Regions from separate parts of the Homo sapiens genome. Here region 2 is linked to region 1. Evidence: fine-mapped expression QTL. Tissue or cell type: whole blood. Region 1 holds a variant in brackets; the other region holds the start of a gene. All regions are shown on one strand. Distances are from middle to middle.

The links. PIP is the estimated chance that this variant, and not a neighbour inherited with it, causes the effect.
Region 2: DTX4 starts here. The variant in region 1 is fine-mapped to the expression of DTX4 in whole blood (INTERVAL, PIP above 0.99).

The regions. Positions count from the first base shown.
Region 1 is chr11:59,255,441-59,258,126 of GRCh38, forward strand. It overlaps the pseudogene WARS1P1. Among named protein-coding and RNA genes, the nearest start is that of MPEG1, 44 kb to the left of the region's middle. The variant C/CA (reference allele first, on the strand shown) is at 1,301.
Region 2 is chr11:59,171,103-59,173,788 of GRCh38, forward strand. It overlaps DTX4 (deltex E3 ubiquitin ligase 4), which reads left to right and starts at 1,030. Exons shown (of 9, transcript NM_015177.2): 1 at 1,030-1,704. The coding sequence starts at 1,494. LOC124902601 (basic proline-rich protein-like) reads right to left here and starts at 2,343. Exons shown (of 2, transcript XM_047427951.1): 1 at 2,163-2,343; 2 at 1-1,628. The coding sequence starts at 2,343. The coding sequence ends at 820. LOC124902675 (a long non-coding RNA gene) reads right to left here. Exons shown (of 4, transcript XR_007062682.1): 4 at 2,597-2,686. RefSeq lists enhancers at 167-707, 794-1,088, 1,716-2,544, 1,987-2,096 and silencers at 967-1,536, 1,597-1,646.

The sequences.
Region 1 (2,686 bases):
TCTCTGACCTGCAGGGCATCCAGAACAAAATGAGTGCCAGTGACCCCAGCTCTTTTATCTTCCTCACCAACATGGCCATGCAGATCAAGACCAAGGTGAGCAGTGCCCAGGGCACAGGACAGCCAGTGGGAGTAGAAACATGCCCCGGGGGGACACACACAAACACACACCATTGCACAGTCCTTTGGGCCCCAGCCACCATAGCGATGCTGAATTCCAGGAGTCCAGGATTCCCAACTATGCTCCCTGCAGAACTCAAGGCAGCCTTGTCCCTATTCCCAGGTATCACATGAATTTGTTTTGTGTCCTTTCATTTAGCTAACATTTTGAATTTCTTTCTTTCTTTCTTTCTTTTTTTTTTTTGAGATGGAGTCTCACTCTGTCATCTAGGCTGGAGTGCAGTGGCATGATCTTGGCTTACTGCAACCTCTGCCTTCTGGGTTTAAGTGAATCTCCTGCCTCAGCCTCCTGAGTAGCTGGGATTACAGGCATGCCCCCCCAGGCCCTGCACCCAGTTAATTTTTGTATTTTTTAGTAGAGACGGGGTTTCTCCATGTTGACCAGGTTGATCTCGAACTCCTGACCTCAGGTGATCCGCCCGCCTCAGCCTCTCAAAATGCTTGTATTACAGGCATGAGCCACCACGCCCAGACAATTTTTTTTTCCTTTTCTGCTTTTCTTACCAACGCTGTACTAGAAGCAAAGTCACGACGATGTTCTTAAAGTTATAATTAATGTGGATATTATTAAACAATGAAAATGAGTTTTGTATATTTCTGATCATCAGCTGTGTTCCAGGGGCTGGACCGGGTGCCTTATTTATGTTATCTCATTTTTAATTCTCACTGGGAGGTAGCAGGGCTAATCCTTTTAAAGATGAGAGAAGGCCTTCTCTTTTTTTTTTTCTTTTCTTTTTCTTTTCCTTTTTATTTTTTTCTTAAGGAAAGGGAAGATAAACATCCATTTGCTATTTTTTTTTCAGCCCCGCAGGCCCACCCACCAGCCAGCCTACATGGTGCCAGCCCCTCCTGCAGGGCCTTGCCTGAGCCTCTCCCATGACTGCTGCTTTCTCTGCCTAGCTTCTGGGCAGTGCCCTGCCAAGATAGAGACCTGTGCCTTTGCCCCAACATTCGTCTGCTCCTTCTACACGATCCCAAGTTATCCAGTTAAGAATCTGCTCTGGAATTCTCCTTGGGAGGCTGAGGCAGGAGAGTCACCTGAGCCCCAGAGGTCAAGGCTGCAGTGAGCGGTGATCGTACCACTGTACTCCAGCTTGGGTGACAGAGAAGAGACCCTGCCT[C/CA]AAAAAAAAAAAAAAAAGAAAATTTGTATGATCTTTGTATATTAGAGCTTTCTCAAATGCTCATTGAAAGAATGTTGAAGGAATTGTGCCAATCTTTGCTGACTTTTATTTTTCCCACCTCTTAGCCCTAATTACGCCATGATTATCTTCAATGATTCCTAAAAGTCATTTCGTTAGTTTTAGAATTTTTCAGCTCCTAAACTTTGCCTGTTTTTAAGCGGAGACCTGCCTGCAGGCCCTTTCTACCTGTTCACTTTTGGTGGGTTTTGCTTTCCCTTATTGCCTTATTCTCGTGCCTTCTTGTTCTGCTTTCCATGGTGGAGAAGGCAGAAGCCAGTTGGGTTGGGTGCTGCTTTTCTGTCCCCTGTTAACACCCCACTACCTGTCCCAAAGAGCCAGCTGCCCTCCCTGCCATCTCCTTTCCTCTGAGGATGGCTTACTCATCCTTTTTCTTTTATTTATTTATTTTTTTAGAAACAGGATCTTGCCCTGTAACCCAGGCTGGAGTGCAGTGGTACAGTCATAGTACACTGTAACCTCGAACTCCTGGGCTCAAGTGATCCTTCCACCTCACTCTCCTAGGACTTTGGGTGCATGTCACCACACCAGCTAATTCCTTAATTGTTTTTGTAGAGACAGGGGCTCACTATGTCTCACTAAGTTGCCCAGGCTGGTCTTGACCTCCTGGCCTCAATCAATCCTCCCACCTCTGCCTCCCAAAGTGCCGAGGCAGGAGGATCTCCCAAACTCCTCTCCCAAGTTTCAGTTCAATTAGTGCTTTGGCTTTCCCAACTCTAGTCTCCTGTATCTCTGACGATGGGGGAGCACAAAGCTAATCTGCCCCCCGCCTCTCCTGCAGTGAGCCCCATGGTAGCTCAGGCTTTGCAGGAAGGAACAATGGTGGGGCTGCCGGCTGTGCACCTTGGCCTTTCTATGGTCCAGAATGTGACAGCACTCACACCTTTGACTTCCACACTTGGGCCCCTAGCCAGTTTCCAGGCACAGGATGAGCAGGACTCATGAGTGGTTCTGTGTTCTCTTCTGGTGCAGATCAGTAAGCATGCATTTTCTGGAGAGAGAGACACCATCGAGGAGCACAGGCACTTTGGGGGCAACTGTGTTGTGGACGTGTCTTTCATGTACTTGACCTTCCTCAAGGATGAAGACAAGCTCGAGCAGATGAGGAAGGTGAGCAGGGAGCCCCAAGGACCCAGTCATCCCATTTCCAACCACCCACTCCTGCATATGGGTCCTGGAAGCTCCAACAGCTGGGCATTAAGGGTTTGTAGGAGCCTTGGGAACTGGTGCCTGGGCCTTAGGAACAGGTGCTCAACTGAAACAAGATGAAAACTGAGTAGAGGCATTCACGTTTTTTAAACATGTGCT
Region 2 (2,686 bases), 84 kb before region 1:
ATGAAAAAATTGATTATTTCAAAAAGATTCACAATCCCATTCTCTAACACATAATCTATTTTTACTTTCCCGCATCCTATAACTTGGATCTTGATAAGACTCGATTCGTTGTTTTATGTGGTTTGCAATCTCAACAAAACAAAATTTGTGTTCTTTGACAAGGATAATGCATAATCCTGACTTCAGTCTTCCCTTTTAGTCAGAACCTACCTATTTAAGGTTATTTTCCATATTAACTATTGATGATCAAAATAAGTCTAACTCGTGTTTTTCCTAGTGTTTCATAATTTTAGTTACAGAAACGATGCAGATAAAATTAATCTAACATGCGTCTTCCTGACTCTAGTACGTTGAATCTGGCCAGAAAAACCACATTTGCTCTCTACGTAGGTAATATAAATCCATCATTAGCGAAATTGCTGCATCCCTTTGGACTGGGTCTCATTAGCAGAGGTTGGAGTGGCCACTGGCCGGCACACGACACTTTAGGCCAGCAGGGGGCGGGTAAGCTCCAGGGCACTCGCCCGAGCAGCAGGGGGCGTGTCTTCTGCTTCCTTGACGGACAGCTAAGGATGCGGGAGAGGATGAGGTAATAGGAGCCGGGGCAAGGAAGGAGTTGGGGTGCGCGCGCGTGTGTGTGCGACTGTGAGTGTGCCAGTGCGTGCGCAAGCCCCGAGACAATGCGTGTCTCCAGTTCGCGCTGCGGACACTGATCATGCTGCATTAAGGAAAAAAAAAGAGAGAGAGAGAGAAAATTACATTTGGGGGAAGGAGGCTGCAAAGTTGCGGCTGGGCGACAGTGGTGGTCCCGGGGCCGTGTCATGGCGGGTCGCTTCTCTGCATCAAGGAACCAGGGAAACACACGCGGGCGCGGGTTTGCCTTAGCGCCCTGCTTGGGAGGGGTGGTTCATTCTGGAAGGAACTGAGCAGAGCCACAGGCAGGGGGAGCTCTCCCAGCGGCGGGGACTGCAATTCGTGCGGCGAAGGGGTGGGGAGGGAGGGAGAGAGGGGAGGGGACCAGAGCGTGCCATTCCGAGCGCGGCCGTGCGGCGAGATCCCACCCCGGCGTCTGCAGAGGCCGAGGCGCAACTGGTGCGAGGGCTGGGTCCTTGCCTCGCCGTCAGCCCCAGCTCGCGGCCGCCGGGGCTCGGGCCGCGCGCCCGCCGAGTGGCTTTTGCAAGGCGGGGGCCTGTTTGCAGAGAGCCGGGCATTTGCATGAAGCGACTCGACCCCACAGAGCAGCGGCAGCAGCAGCGGACCCCGGCGGCGGCGGCGGCGCGCGGTCCCAGCCAGGCGGCCCCGGTGTCCCGGCCCCGGTGGATGCACGGCTGGGGAGGAGCCCATGGGCCGGAGCTGAGGCTGCCCGGGGCGGCGGGGCGCGGGGCAGGGGGCGCGGTCGAGGCCCGGAGGCGGCGGCGCAGGAGGAAGCGGAGGAGGTCGGGCGCTCGGGGCCCGGGAGGCGGGCCGCGCAGCGCCGCAGCCCCGGGCTCGCCATGCTCCTGGCCTCGGCCGTGGTGGTCTGGGAATGGCTGAACGAGCACGGCCGCTGGCGTCCCTACAGCCCAGCGGTGAGCCACCACATCGAGGCGGTGGTCCGCGCCGGCCCCCGCGCGGGGGGCAGCGTGGTGCTGGGCCAGGTGGACAGCCGTCTCGCGCCCTACATCATCGACCTGCAGTCCATGAACCAGTTCCGCCAAGACACGGGTGAGCCAGCCGCCCCTGACCCCGCCCCGCCTGCTCCCACCTTCCCAACCTGCCAAGGTACCTCCCTCCCTGTGAACCCACCTTGGCCACCTAGTCGGCACTTCTGTGCAGCAGTGTCACCAAGAGGTGGTGGTGGGAGGCGATTCACTCCGCTGAATCCTCGCAGGATCCTCCCTCCCCCTTAAACATCCATGCAAATAGTATCAGTGTTGTGGTTTTGCAAACCCAGCTTCAACCTAGTCGGTAACAATCCACTCCCCACCCCTTTCATGCCCCCGCTTTTCAGCAGTTGGTGGCCCTAAGTCTTTCTATGTAGAAATTCTAGGGCCGCCCCAGACTACAGGCAATCCCAGCCCTTCGCAAAGGCTTCCTGCCCTCATCCCGTGGCGGCCGGCACCTTGGCTGACCTGACCCTGTTTTGCTTCAGGCACGCTGGGGCTTGCCACACGTCCCCTCACCCCCGATCTCACTGCCTCTGCGTCTCCTGTGTGGGATGCCTCCCCGCAGCTGGGTCCTGGGTGTGGGAACTGGGGGAGGAAGAAGGGATTCCCCGGAGGTTCTCGCTACAGTCGGGTAAGGGAAGCGCCGGGCTCCCTGGGAGGAGAGACTAGGGCTGGGGTACCCTGGACGCCGCGGCATTGGCGAATGCCTCTGCTACACACTACATGCGCGGAAGCAACAGGCCGGAGCAGATGGAGAGAGGAGGGGGAGGCTCGGGGCTTCGGAATGCATGGCAGGGAAGCCGCTCCCTTTGTCTGCGGAGGAGGAGGACGCAGATTCCTAAGGAGAAACTGTCCCCAGGCTTCCTCTTGAAACCATAGCCTGTAAGGAACCCATGGTCTCCTGGAGCGCCAAACTCCTATCTTTTCATGAGAATCAAGTTGTCACTGTAGCCAGCACAAACCCGCTTCCCAGCTGACCTGCCTTTCCAGGTCAGAGCCAGGAAGGGAGCCTCCAGGATGGGGCCTTGGGGGGTGGGGAG